Linked DNA regions of Homo sapiens. The protein of the gene in region 2 purifies or fractionates together with the protein of the main gene of each other region. This does not show direct contact. Each region holds a gene or a part of one and is shown on either strand. Other genes may lie near its edges.

What was found. Proteins that work in one complex are often made in the same cells at the same time.
Region 1: the proteins of P4HA2 (region 2) and MAP7D1 purify together in Homo sapiens (affinity purification with mass spectrometry; 2 studies listed by BioGRID and IntAct, with this or other methods). This does not show direct contact.
Region 3: the proteins of P4HA2 (region 2) and COL5A1 purify together in Homo sapiens (co-immunoprecipitation; one large-scale study listed by IntAct). This does not show direct contact.
Region 4: the proteins of P4HA2 (region 2) and IQSEC1 purify together in Homo sapiens (co-immunoprecipitation; 2 studies listed by BioGRID and IntAct, with this or other methods). This does not show direct contact.

Annotation. Positions count from the first base shown.
Region 1 is NC_000001.11:36,166,160-36,169,659, reverse strand, and holds part of MAP7D1 (MAP7 domain-containing protein 1), read right to left. Parts: intron 1-3,500. UniProt on the Homo sapiens protein: Microtubule-stabilizing protein involved in the control of cell motility and neurite outgrowth. Facilitate microtubule stabilization through the maintenance of acetylated stable microtubules.
Region 2 is NC_000005.10:132,206,465-132,211,773, forward strand, and holds part of P4HA2 (prolyl 4-hydroxylase subunit alpha-2 isoform 2 precursor), read right to left. Parts: intron 4,060-5,309; coding exon 3,820-4,059; intron 2,868-3,819; coding exon 2,674-2,867; intron 1,421-2,673; coding exon 1,244-1,420; intron 1-1,243. UniProt on the Homo sapiens protein: Catalyzes the post-translational formation of 4-hydroxyproline in -Xaa-Pro-Gly- sequences in collagens and other proteins.
Region 3 is NC_000009.12:134,843,073-134,845,343, reverse strand, and holds the end of COL5A1 (collagen alpha-1(V) chain isoform 1 preproprotein), read right to left. Parts: 3' UTR 501-2,271; downstream 1-500. UniProt on the Homo sapiens protein: Type V collagen is a member of group I collagen (fibrillar forming collagen). It is a minor connective tissue component of nearly ubiquitous distribution. Type V collagen binds to DNA, heparan sulfate, thrombospondin, heparin, and insulin.
Region 4 is NC_000003.12:12,899,487-12,902,429, forward strand, and holds part of IQSEC1 (IQ motif and SEC7 domain-containing protein 1), read right to left. Parts: intron 2,037-2,943; coding exon 1,497-2,036; 3' UTR 1-1,496. UniProt on the Homo sapiens protein: Guanine nucleotide exchange factor for ARF1 and ARF6. Guanine nucleotide exchange factor activity is enhanced by lipid binding. Accelerates GTP binding by ARFs of all three classes.

The sequences.
Region 1 (3,500 bases), on a different chromosome or scaffold from region 2:
CTGAGGAGATCAATGGGAACACAGCTACCAACTTGCTTAGGGAGCAGGGCCGGCATCTGTGGGAAGCTTCATCTAAGGAAACATTTTTCTTTTTTTTTTTTTTTGAGACGGAGTCTCGCTCTGTCACCCCGGCTGGAGTGCAGTGGCGCAATCTGGGCTCACCGCAAGCTCCGCCTCCTGGGTTCACCCCATTCTCCTGCCTCAGCTTCCCGAGTAACTGGGACTACAGGCGCCCGCCACCACGCCTGGCTAATTTTTTGTATTTTTAGTAGAGACGGGGTTTCACGGTGTTAGCCAGGATGGTCTCAATTTCCTGACCTCATGATCCGCCCGCCTCAGCCTCCCGAAGTGCTGGGATTACAGGCGTGAGCCACTGCCCACCGCGCCCGGCCTTTTTTTTTTTTTTTCAAGACAGAGCCTTGCTCTGTTGCCCAGGCTGGAGTGCATTGGCACGATCTCGGCTCACTGCAACCTCTGCCTTCCAAGTTCAAGTGATTATCCTGCCTCAGCCTCCCAAGTAGCTGGGATTACAGGCACCTGCCACCACGCCCAGCTAATTTTTGTATTTTTAGTAGAGACGGCGTTTCACCATGTTGGCCAGGCTGGTCTCGAACTCCCGACTTCAGGTGGTCTGCCCGTCTCGACCTCCCAAAGTGCTGGGATTACAGGCATGAGCCACTGCACCCGGCCTTATATGTTATTAGTTTTAATCCTCACTGACAATAGTTATGAAGGAGTCCTCATATAGATGAGGACAGTAAAGTAAAAAAAGATGAAGCAAAAAAAAGAGGTAATTTGAGATCATTCAGCTGGTCAGTCAGGGAGCCTGGACTTGGACCCAGTAGCCATCATCAGAGCCTGTCCTTACCCATTATACCCTCCTGCCTTGTTGAAGGCAATATGAGGGAATAGGTGTTACGCAATAAATTATCTGAGGCTCACACTATTTTCCGCCTCATTCCTTCCCATCCAGCTTGCTAGGATCCAGGCAAGAGCCCCAGCTGAGGCCCTGTCTTCCCCATTACCCCTCCAACTCCACCAACTCCACCAACTCCTAGGCTACATGACAAGCCACCCATCTCTTCCCATACCAGCAGGAGACGGCTGCCTGGTCACTGCTAATCTATTTCCCAGCCAACTGCAAACTCCTTTACCAATTCCAGTAGTCAACAAAACCAGTTACTCACTCTAGTGAGTGCTTACTACTCACTAACAGTGGTGCACCCTGTGTCCTCGCAATTCTGAGAGGCAGAGATTCTTATCCCCATTATACAAGTGTGGCAACCAAGGCCCAACCTGCAAAGTGATCCACACAGAGTCATAGAACTAGTATGTGGCAGAGTTGGGCTTTTTTTTTTTTTTTCCTGAGATGGAGTCTCACTCTGTTGCCAGGCTGGAGTGCAGTGGTGCGATCTCGGCTCACTGCAACCTCTGCCTCCCAGGTTCAAGCAATTCTCCTGCCTCAGCCTCCAGAGTAGCTGGGACAACAGGCAGGCACCACCACACCCAGCTAATTTTTGTATTTTTAGTAGAGACGGGGTTTCACCATGTTGGCCAGGCTGGTCTCCATCTCTTGACCTCGTGATCCGCCCTCCTCAGCCTCCCAAAGTGCTGGGATTACAGGCGTGAGCCACCGCACCCAGCCTAGAGTTGGGATTTGAACTCAGGACTGTCTGAAGCCAAAGCCTGGGTGTGTAAGTATTAAGCTTGAAGGTTGAGGGTGAGGTCTGTTTATTGCCATTCTCCAAGCACCTGTGCGTGCTGCAGGTGTTGCAAGGAAAACTGGTAGGCGGGTGTTTGTCTACACCTAGGCAAATCACACCCACCAGGCAAGACAGTCAGTGAGTCCCCAGCAAGGTCCTGACTCGCTATGTGAAAGGAGGCTGGGAGGAGGTAGAGGAGTGAGGCTTGGAAGAACCTGCACCCAGGCATCAGATGCAGTGGAGCAGAAAGGTCACAGGCTTCAGAGTCTGACAGGCCTGACTGAGGACCTCGGCTCCCGGCGAACCTCGGGCAAGCCCTGAGCCTGTGTAACCACAGTTCCCTCATGGAGTTGTTGGCACACATGGGGAGTTGGTACAGACGGGTACATCATCGGTGGCACCTGGCAGGGGCTTGGTAAGCAGCACCTGCCCCGAAGAATATATCCACGTCTCCTCATCTCTGCCAGGAGGAAATGCTTCAGCCAGGCCTTACCCCCACTGCTCTGCAACATTGCACTTCTCAAGGACACCCGTGACCTCCATGCTGCTAAATCCAGCAGGCAGTTTTCCATCCCTCATCTTCCTTGGCCACTATGCAGCTGCATCTGCCACAGTTGATTTCTGACTGCTCCTTGAAACACTGTCTTCACCTGGCTTTGAAGACAGCACATTCTCCTAGTTTTCCTTCTACCTTGCTGACTGTCATTTCTCAGTCATCTTTGCTGATCCTGCCTGAACTTCCCAACCTCTCAGCGCTGGAGTGCCCTAGGGCTGAGTGGAGGACCTCATTTATTTTCTATCCACACGCACTCCCTTGGTGACCTCATCCAGACTCACAGATTTAAATACCATCACTGCTGACGACAACCAAATTTGTGTCTCCAGCCCAGGCCTCTCCCTTGAGGTCTAGTTTCACTCATGCAACTCCCAGCTGCTTGACACCCCTGTGTGTCTCAAAGATGCCCCCAATTTAACACATCCCAAACTGAGCTGCTGATCTTCCCCCAAAAGCCTGCTTCTCCCCATTTTCCCCATCTCAGTTAATGACAACTACATCACACCTCATGTCTAATCTCTCAGCAAATCCTTCTGCCTTTATCTTCAAAACAGATCTCAAATCTAATCATTTCTCACTGTCTCCACTTCTATCACTTGGATCAGAGCTACTATCAGCTCTGATAAAAGACTCCCTGCTCCAGTCTTTGTTCCCCCTGGGTCTTTTCTCAACACAGTAGCCAGAGTGATTCTGTTTAAAAATAAGTCAGATTGGCCGGGTGCGGTGGCTCACGCCTGTAATCCCAGCACTTTGGGAGGCCAAGGCAGGCAGATCACGAGGTCAGGAGATCGAGACCATCCTGGCCAACACGGTGAAACCCCGTCTGTACTAAAAACACAAAAAATTAGCCAGGCATGGTGGCAGGCGCCTGTAGTCCCAGGTACACAGGAGGCTGAGGCAGGAGAATTGCTTGAACCAGGGAGGTGGAGCTTGCAGTAAGCCAAGATAGCGCCACTGCACTCCAGCCTGGGTGACAGAAGGAGACTCTGTCTCAAAAAAAAAAAAAAAAAAGGTCAGATCACGTCACTCCTCTGACAAAATCCTGCAATGATTCCTCATTTGAGGGGAAGAAAAAGCCAAAGTCATCATGATAGCCTATTAAGGACTCCCCAGGATCCTGACCTCTTCGACCTTGTCTCCTCTTCTCCCCCTGCTCAGTTTTTCAGCCACTGTCCCTTAAGGGTGTTGGGGAGATTTCTGCCTCAGGGCTTTGTACTGAGGAAACAATATTTCCTCAGTGG
Region 2 (5,309 bases):
ATGAGTGTCGGGCCTCCTGGTCACCTCGGCCCCTACAATTCTATTAGGAGCAGAGCAATAGAGAATCGAGCTAAATCCTCCCTCCCAATCATCAGTGATGGGATATGGCAGCAAATAGGTCTCTTTGAAAGATGTCAAATGGGGAACAAATCTTTTATGAACTAGAAACAGAAGAATAATTTTAAAACATGGCATATATACAAAACCAACAGCCAACTGCATTCTTAGCAGTAAAATACCATAGGAATTTCCAGGAAATTCAGGAATGAGACAAGGATGCCTATTCTACGTAATTATGCTCTAGAAGTTCTGGGCAATTCAATAAGGTTATAAAAACAAAGGAACTACAAGTATCAGGAGAAAATAAAATTTTCCTTATTTCCAGGTGTTAATGCTATCCAGGCAACCAAAGAGAAATCAGCTAAAAACCAAAAAAGAAATAAGTAAATTCAACCACTAGCTGCAATCTGTATGAGTTTGCTTTTTCATAGGTAAAACAGAGACAGTGACATCATTATGAGCAGCTGTTCATAACTGTGACATAACACTTAATATATATGTTAAGCACTTAGAAGTTCCTGCCACAGTTAAGAATTCAGTAAACATTAGCTCTTACTATGAAATGTATTTGTAAAATCAATAGTTTGGCATATAATAGTAAACTAATAAAATAATGTAACCAGTTAAAAATAATAATGAAGAAATAAAGTAAATTAACAGTAACAAAGAAACTACCAAGGAATAAACTTAAGAAATGTTCAAGGCTTATATGAAGAAAACTTAAAAAGATATGGAGAGACCTGTCATGCCCTTGGATGAGAAGACCCAATATTATAAAGATATACATTCTCCTCTAAGTCATTCACCTCATTTACAGTCCTAATCAGGAGCTCCACAGGACCCAGCTTCATAGCATCCTATGGAACATTTCCAAAAAACTCACCCACGCACCAGTCTCCCAACCAGGTGAACTGACACACCAGTGTAGACCTGCCCTGTTCCCAGCGTGACCTTCTATGATAGCACTTGGCTGTCCACATTGGTTACCCTGTTCTTCTTCCACTGGACCATGAACTCACAAGGTCAGGCTGAGTCTGAAGCATCTCTGTATCCCCACGGTAGGCCCATGCTAGATATGGATAAAGGGTGGCTAGATGGGCAAACCAACCACCCATAGTGCTAGGGATGAGAAAAAGGACCTTCCCCCTTCAGTGACCCGAGAAGGACCTACAGTGACACCTACTTTAGGTTTTGCGATCTCCTTGATCCTCTCGATTTCCTCATCAGACATGACATCGTAGTACCTGACGATGTGCGGGCTGTCCCACTCGTCCTCCTCTTTGAAGGGGGCAATGAGCAGCTGTGGGGCCCTGTTGCCATGGTGGTACCTACAGAAAAGCCTCTTCTGTCTACGGGGTGTCTGGAAAGCACAGAGTAACAGGCCCTGAGCTGAGTGAGTCCTAATCCTCGGTCCCAGTCTGGCTGTCTGCAGACACTGGACTCACCTCATGGCCAGCAGCTGCTCCCTCCCACCACACCACAGAAGAAAACAAAAGTCCCAGCAGGTGGGCATGCACAGTGGCTCATGCCTGTAATCCGAGAACTCTGGGGGGCCAAAGGATAGCTTGAGACCAGGAGTTTGGGACCAGCCTAGATGACATAGACCTGTCTCTAAAAAATTAGCCAGGCATGATGGTGCATACCTGTAGTCCCAGCTACTCAGGAGACTGAGGCAGGAGGATTGCTCAAGGCTGGGAGGTCAAAGCTGCAGTGAGCTATGATTATACCACTGCACACCAGCCTGGGCGACAGGGTGAGACGAAAGAAAGAAAAGAAAAGGAAAAAGAGGAAACAGGAAAAAGAGAAGAAAAAGGAAGGAAGAAAGGAAGGGAGGGAGGGAGGGGAGGAGAGAGGAGGAGAAGGGGGAGGGGAGGGGGAGGGGAGGGGGAGGGGAGGGGGGGAGGGGAGGAGAGGGGGGAATGGGGGGAGGGGAGAGGAGAGGAGAGCCCCTTCAGCTTAACTGGCATGAAATAACACCCCACAAATCATGCAATTTTTCTTCTCTCCCAAAATCACCTCACATCCTCAAGTCCCATGGCAGAAAGTAATTCCTGACCCTTTTCGTGAAGACTTGAGTAGGTCTGAAGGGCTGGGACAGGGGAGAAACCTTTCTTGGTGGAGGAGCCAGTAGAAGCCATGCAGACAGGGGCATGGAAAAGGCTCAGAGCCTGTCACACCTGGGCCTCCTCAGGAAGCACTAGGATCCCAGGGCTCTCAAAGGCTCGATACCAAGCTCTAGTACACGCTGGTGTCTTTACCACAGAGACTTACTCTCCACTTATACCATGACTTCTTTTGGGGCCTGAGGTACGTCCACCCATTGTTTTCTTCCCAACAGTGAGTGAAGCAAAAAGTGGGACATATTGGGGTAAGGAGGCGAGCTCACTGGTAACTTAGAGGAGCAACACTCTACCTGGGGCACGAGGGGAGAGAGTCTCCTTTCCTACACCTCAGAGAATATCCACATGTCAGCCTCAGGAGATGCCATGAAAAACTGGGGGATATACTGAGAAAAGTACCTACAGAATAAAGAACACCTTCCCCAAATCTGCCTGCCCAGAGCCAGAGTCCAGGTCCACAGCTTTGGCACCCTAGCCCCCTCACACATCTCACCAGTTTGACACCCTCCCCACGACAGAGGCTCTCGTAAACATCCCTCTCAGGCAGGTAGTCCACAGGCCTCTCATAGATGCCTTCTGGGGTTGCTAGCTCAGCTTCTGTCTGATTTGTTAACGTTTTTTCTCTCTCTTCCTCCAATAACTGCTCAAAGTACCGCAGATTCCCTCCAGCTCGTTCGTGGCTTGGGTCTAGAAAATGCAAGGAATGAGAAGGAAAAGGAAACCACAAACATCTGTTAGGTCATTTAGAGAAATTATTCTGTAAGGGTTTCTCTCCCAGCAGCTCACCTGCATGCTGCATTCTACCTTCCACAGCATCTAACCAGAGTACGCTGGTCGTAACTGGAAAACCAACAGAGGCCAGGTGCGGTGGCTCATACCTGCAATCCCAGCACTTTGGGAGGCCGAGGCGGGTGGATCACGTGAGGTCACGAGTTCGAGACCAGCCTGACCAACATGGTAAAACCTCATCTCTACTAAAGAAAATACAACATGGGGCATGTGCCTCTGTAATCCCAGCCACCTGGGAGGCTGAGGCAGGAAAATCTCATCAACCCGGGAGGCGGAGGTTACAGTGAGCTGAGATCGTGCCACTGCTCTCCAGGCTGGATGAGTGAGACTCTGTCTCAAAAAAAAAAAAAAAAAAAGGTAGATGAGTTTTAAAGGCACAGTGCTTTTGGCCTTCTTCAGTCCAACAGCACAAGGCACACAAAGTATCAATGCCATATGAAGTCCTACTATTAGACCTCAGGCCTCTAATAGCACCGCTACTGTTTGTCACTGTAACAATCCTAAAGTACAACCTGACTCCTGAGCTGCTCCTGATGTAGTAAAGGTTCCACCCTGTGTAGTCCTGCATGGTGACAGATACACCATAACAGAGTCCTTATTAAAAAGGCCCACAAGTGCCACAGGCCTGAGCGTATCTATCAGCGACTGCGCAAACCTAAGGCCAGGATTGAGGTGGGTAAGGAGCTAGTAAGAAGCTGGACTGGTCCTAAAGTCAGTAAGGCATTAGTCACTGGCCAAGTGACAGGGTAAACTGACTCAGTCCCAGGAGAGGGGTCAGGCAGATGCCAGCACAGTGCAGTTCCTCTGCCACTCTCCATTCCCATCTTACCTTCCCCTAGAATCTCCTTACCAAGGGAGAGCAGGCGGCGGGTGAGCTCCAGGGCACGGTGCAGATCACCCAACTGGAAGACAGCATAGCTGAGGTAGTCCAGCACCTGTGACTTGGTTGTGGTGGCCTCCTCCCCGGCATCAAGCTGCTTTAGCACCTGCTCCATCCACAACACCGTATGATAATAGTCCCCTTCATTGTAGGCCGAGCGGCCCATCCCAAAGCAGTCATCCACACTCAGCATTGCCTGGTACTTGGTTCCTACAGCAGGGGAAGTAAATTGTCAGGCTCCAAAGAGCCTCTGGATTAGGGAAAGAGATTCCCACTTCAAGGAAAGCCTGAGCCACTGGATAGGGGGCATCACCAAGCAGAACTCCATCGGACATTTAGACTGCATATCCTAAAGGGCCACTGACACAGTGAGCACAGACAGATGGCCCAGCCCTGCCCTGGACTGGGGTTCACAGCCACCTCTTAGCCTCAGATTCCCCATCTCCCAAGTGGGAAGGGGCCTTTTTAGGGGGAGCCCCAGAAACCCACCAGGAAGCATTGTTGAGGACAGTGGGAAGGTCCTGTGGACCACAGAGAAGAAGATGTCTGGTGGGCAGTTTGCCATATGAGTCTAGAGGATGGAAAAATTAGCTGAATATAAAAAACATAAATTTAGGTGGCAACCAAGCCATGGGTGAGGAAAATAGCTTGCAGGAACTCTGAGGAAAGAATGGAGAAGATGACTAAGGCCAGAGCTCCAGGGAGCACCTACCCAGAAAGAACAGACAATGAATAACCCTGAGAATGAACTAAAGATAGGAGAAACAGAGGGAGCGGGAGTGGTGTGAGAGACACCAAGGGAGGCCAAGAGCCAAGGTTGCAGTGCCAGCTTTGGCTGTTAAGTGGCAGGGACCTTGCTGAGTATCAGTTCAGTGGGTCTTATGACCAAAGGTCATCTGCTGTAGAGGGAGTGCTGGAAAGTGACCATGAAGATAGTTTCAAGCCAATATGAAGAAGCAGCTATAGGGAGATGCAGGATTTAGGGTGAGCTCAAGATGGGAAAGACTATGTGTGTGGTTCCTCAGAGAATAATGAGAAAGCAGATACCATGGAGGGGAAGTGGGGGCTGTGACTCTCCCTGGAAAGCAAGGAAGACTCCCCACAGCCCCATTAACAGCAACCTGGGCATGGCTGACACAAAAGAACTCAGAGAAGGCTCTTTCTGCCTGGAATGAAACCACTACACAGTAGGCTAAATGCTTCAGAGACCAGGGTCTGCTAACCCCGGTGGCTCAGGAACCAATAACGAGGAATAGGAAGTTGGGGACAGTAAACACAAGATGAAGTCCCTAGGTAGGCCAGGGACTGGGGGGCTCCTGGAGCCCCTTTTCCTTCTCCACAGGTCTCCTCTGGCTCTGCAGGCCCAGGAACCTACATTGCTGGGGCAGAGTAACATAGCTGACTGAGCTGGGGCTCTGGAGCTGAACTAAACTAGGTTTGTGTTGGCCTCACTAGGGCGC
Region 3 (2,271 bases), on a different chromosome or scaffold from region 2:
AACATGGCTGGTGCTGTGCCCGAGGGAACCACACCTTCAGACCGGAAGAGGCGAATGCCACGTGGGCTCAAGGTCATCGGCTGCAACGAGCCCCGTGCCTTCCCCGACCTCTAGCCACAAGGAGCTAGGGAGTCTAATCCTGCTACACAGCTGGAAGGGCAGTGCTGGAGAGCTTCAAGAACATTCTCGCAGGGTGCTGACTGCCAGGAGTGAAGAGTGAGGACAGTACACGGTGGTGTGGACACCCAGCAGTGGCTGAAACTCACTTCTCGGGCTAGTGCCCGGTTACGTTCTAACATCCTCCCAAGGGCACAAAGCTGTCCATGCCAGCCTTGGCCACTCCTGAGGGACAAGCTCCACCTAAGGACAGCCGGGGCCATCCCTTCCTTTCTCTGGGTGGCCAGTGTGGTTATCTCCAGAGCTCCTAGCGTCCTGGGACTGTGTGCAGTCCTGTCTGGGAGGGGCCTGGCCACACTTAAGAAGAGAGTCACTCACATCTGTTTACGGTGGAAACACCCAACTCGATTTATTGAAAAACTATTACAGTTAATTATTCCTTTGTTACACAAGTTTAGAATATTTTAAGATATCCTTTCCTGGGCATTACAGTTAAAACTTATGACATGTCTAGCGGATTTTTTGAAACCGTACAATGTGTCATTTGACATTGTATTTCAAAAGGCCTGATGTCCTCGAAACTTTATCTTGGGTTTTTTGCTTACCATTTTTTTCTTTTTGCCAGCGTTTGTCCAATTATATATATTGAGAGGAAAAAATAAAATTACACCAAAAGAATTTCTGCAAATATAAGAAGTAATTTTATTGCAATATACTGTGGCTAGAGTGGTCTGGGGAGAACGGGACACATTTTGAAGTTCAGTACAAATTATAACAACTTTGAAGGGACCACAGAGGAAGAAAATGACAGGAGAAAAGGACAAATTGGATGGGATGAGAAATGAAAACAGAATCACATGACCTAGACGCAGTCCACGGGGGTCGCGGGACAGTCCTCGGCTATGGCTTTTCTTTTGAAGAGATGAAGGTGACAGTCATTGGCACATGCTGGCATCCTGGGCTCCAGAGACTCTCCAAGCCAGACTTTTCTTTGGCAAGAGCGAGACTTACTTTCCAGGGAAATTTGGAAAATCCACGCTGGCGGTGTTTTGTTCCTCCTGGGTGGCTTGTTTGTGGCTTCCTAAGCTGGAACTGCATTCTGGTGGTGGTGGGGGTCGGGGACAGCACCAGAGCCCCGCAGGCTCACCCCAAGGGCCCAGCCTGCATTTCCCATGGTAGAAGGAAAAGGCGCTGCACCCGGGCAACTTTTCACAGTGAAGAGATCGCCTTTCCTGGCTGCCCCTCGGGTCCTCCTGCCCACAGACGGCAGCCCCCCGACCTCGATGGCCAGGAAAGGGTTCCCCAAAGGGGACCTCACCCGCCCCGAGCTCTGGAGCCGCTGACGCTCGCATCCAGGACATTTGAGATGGGAATCCAAATAGGCTACTTGGAAAAGACGTGCTGCAGGCAGCCCTGGAGAGACTCATGGAGTTCATTGTACATTACTCCATCTACCGAGGCAGCGCATGGCATGACTGAACGGCTTGGAACAAACACAGAAATTAGCACCACAAACATTCAGGAACCAAATATAATCTGCTATGGTCACACCACAGACAATGCAGGAAGAGGCTTTTTATTGCTTGTGTGTGTTTTCAAATCAAGTAGGCACAACCCAGTCCTCATAACAGCCCTCGGGAGTGGACGCACCGGGGCGGGAGAGCGCAGGAGGGAGTGTGCTTGGCTATCCTGCCCAGTGGAAAGGAAAGTGACGTGCATTGATCTTAGAGTCCTTGGCAACAGACTGTGGAGGCAATAACAGGATAAAGAAAGCAGGGAGAACGAGGCATGGCCAGGGTCCCCAGTGCGCCTTCAAGGAGACCTTAAAACAGATAGATAGCACCACAAGAGAGCCACAAGAGAGAAGTGTAAAAAATAAGCACCAATTTTCATTGAGTTATCACCTACAAAAAATGTGGTTTCCCTGCCCTGGACATTCTCCCATCAGGCTCTGCGGGAAGAAAAGCGGAAAAAGGAAGCAAATAAAATTAATCCAAACCTGTGTTTTAGTCTTAAGTGCATGTAGAAAAAAGAAAATTATCAAATTTTTTCCCTATTAAAAAAAAAAAAAGTCTAGAGCGAATCAAAAACTGTCTGAAAAGGGGCACTGGTACCTGCTTTTCAATGGCAGCATAAATTCTTGCTGCCCCGGGG
Region 4 (2,943 bases), on a different chromosome or scaffold from region 2:
CTGGCCCTGGGGAGCGCATGGTGTCACCACAACACAGAAGCGACAAGAGCACAGCTGAGAGTCATGTGATGCCCTGGCAGCTCACTGGACCATGGGAAGGCAGCGGGGGCTCCGCCGGGCACTCGTCGGCTGGGGTCACACGGGCCACGGTGAGGACACAGGGGTTCTGCTAGCACATGGCTACATGGAATTACGGTGATCACTGCTACCACTCAGAAAACAAAACGGGAAACACACACACCGCCCTGGGTTGCTAAACGCTAAAGTCAACCTTCAGGTTCGAGAGTGGTTCCTGATGAAAACACTCTCTGAGGGCTTCGGCCTGGTGTGGGTTGGAGGCGGGATGAGGACGTTATGGTGTTGGGGAGACGAGGATGAGAGCTGGTCACTTTCATGTTGGAGATGAACACTTCTGCCGTGTATGGGTGCCCCTCTCGGAGGACTCTGAATGAGTGTGCGTCAAATCATATGCGCATAAAAGAAACATGGATCATGGAGAGTCACAGTTATCGCAGCCATTAAAGTGTCTAAGAATCCGTGTAACCAATGTCCTAAGACAACCAGCTTGTAACCAGCTGTCCTGAGTTGCTACTGTAGAGTGTACTGCAGTTTAGCTATTTGCTTACCTGAAATAACAGCATTATAATACTATTTATGATAGTATTCTGTTAATAAAATAAGGATTTATACAAAGCAATACTGGACTTTTTAAACAGTTAGATGCTATGTTACTTGGCACAGTTAGTAATGATTGTGTAAAGATTTTAGCCAGTCCTAGAGGGACTTCTTTGTATGAAAATATGAAGTATCTGAATTTGTTCCTAGCATTTAGGGTTTGGTCTATTGTCTCACACACCCAGCTAAGGTACTGTCTTCCTATTAGGTAAGTGGAGCTCCTTGTAAGGTGGGTATTGCTAATGTGGACTGAAACGCCTGCCTTTCACACACAAGTACTACCTATACAGTATATATATATATATATTTATATATTTATATATTTATATAAAGTTTACTTACGTATTTTCATCAACCATATCAGGTCTACTTATTTTTTTGCCCATTGTCAATAAAAGAGCAATAATGCAGCAAGTTTTGGGGTTTGTTTTGTCTGTTTTTGTATCTCATTTCTTCGTTTTCTAGGTTGGGTTTTCATATGCATGTACATTAGGGCACAGGGAGCTGAGAGCTGGAGTGGGGGAGGCAGTTCAACACTACTTGGCTGGCTCACCGTTTCAAGGCTGATGGTGTCTGAGGCCCACCCATCCCTCAGACTGAGGTGAGCAGAGCCCAGGGTGCCAACAAGAAATGAAATCTGGGCCTTTGTTCCACACAACACCAGCCCTGTGGGCTCCTGGGGCTCCGGTTGGGCCGTGAGGGGCAGAGGGGAGAGATGGCAACAGAAGTGCCCCGGGTTTGGTGTGCGGCTGGCGACCCCCGGGCGTGCCCTGTGTGGTGTGCAGGTGTTTCAGGGAGCCTGGGACCCCTACCCAGGCTGTCTACACAATTGTGCTGATGCCGCTGGGTTTGGCCTTGCTGCTGGTGGGGGGCGGCGGGGCAGGGGGCTGCCCATGGTGGTGCACTGTGTGCCCCACGTGGGCCGAGGGCAGCGGCGGGTGGCCGTGGGCATGGGCCCCGTAGGCTGGGTGGCCCCCATGGGGGCCGTGGTGGTACTGGTGTGCGTGCTGGATGTGCTGGGGTGGGTGGTGGTGGTGGTGATGGTGGTACGGGGGAGGGTTCTGCATGTGGCAGTACTGGGTGTGATGCCCGTGCATGGCGGCCTGCGGCAGCCCCTCTGGGGGCCCCAGGTGGTGGCCAGCCACAGAGTGCTGCAAGTGAGGCAGGACCACCGGTGGGTGGGGGGGTGGCAGGGCTGGGGCTGAGGGCAGGTGGGCCTGGGGAGGGGGCTTCCCTCTCTTGCTCCCGAATAAGGAGCCCAGGAGGGAAGATGAGTTGGGCATAGTCTGGTGTGGGCGAGATGGACACTCTCGTGTTGATGTAGCTCTCCGGCGCATGTGAGGACTGCTAATGATGGACCCCTAAAAAGGAAATTCATAGAAATCAAAATTAAAAGATCTTCAAGCACTTAGGTCAGAATGATTTTTTTTTTTCAAATGTAAAAATTCACCCACTGACTGCTAAGCTTTAGTTCAACTCACTGGCCAGAGGGTGGGGCTCAGTGAGGCTGGACTGGGCCCCGCCTCCTCTCACTACAGTGCAGGGCAGCTGGGGGTTACTGGCCTTGACCAAAGTGGGGAGTGAGGGCAGGGGAGGGGCCCATCTCTCTGACCACCACGGCAGAAGTAGGACTTCTGGTCTCATTCTGACAAGCACTTTGGCCCTGGCAGCAGCCTGAGATTTCAAATTGGAACCCCTAGGTTGGGGTGTCTGTGCGCTGTGTGTGGCGAGTGCAGAGGGGCTGATGTGCCTGGAGGAGGAGCCCTGCTCCTGCTGAAAACAGGGCCCTCAGCTCTCCTGGGACTGCTCAACTGGGCTGAGGGCATGTGCTCCGCCCATGTGGGTCCTGAGGTCTCGGGGGAGGTGGTGACAGGGACAGGTGGGGCTCAGAAACCTTGTCCTCTGGGAGAATGGGCTGCCTAGGCATTTCACTACAGCTGCCTACTACAAACCAAACAAGGAAAAAGAAGGTAACAGAAAAAGATCTGCAAGCTGAGGTAGAGATGTGAACAGTAATACAGAGATGGCCGGAGGATGAGTGAAATATCATGAAATCCACACTGAATCTCTTTCTCTCAAGACACTCCTCCTCCCACAAGCTAAGCAATTCCATGGTGTCCTGCCGCAGACACACAGCAATCAAACTCCAAGAAGAAAGCGATGAGGATGGGCGGGCGTGGAAGTCAAGGGTTCAGCAAAAACATCCAACAGCAAGTGTGGAGGGTGAGTGGGAGCCGGGTGGCCCGGGCGGGGGTGCCGGAAGCTGGG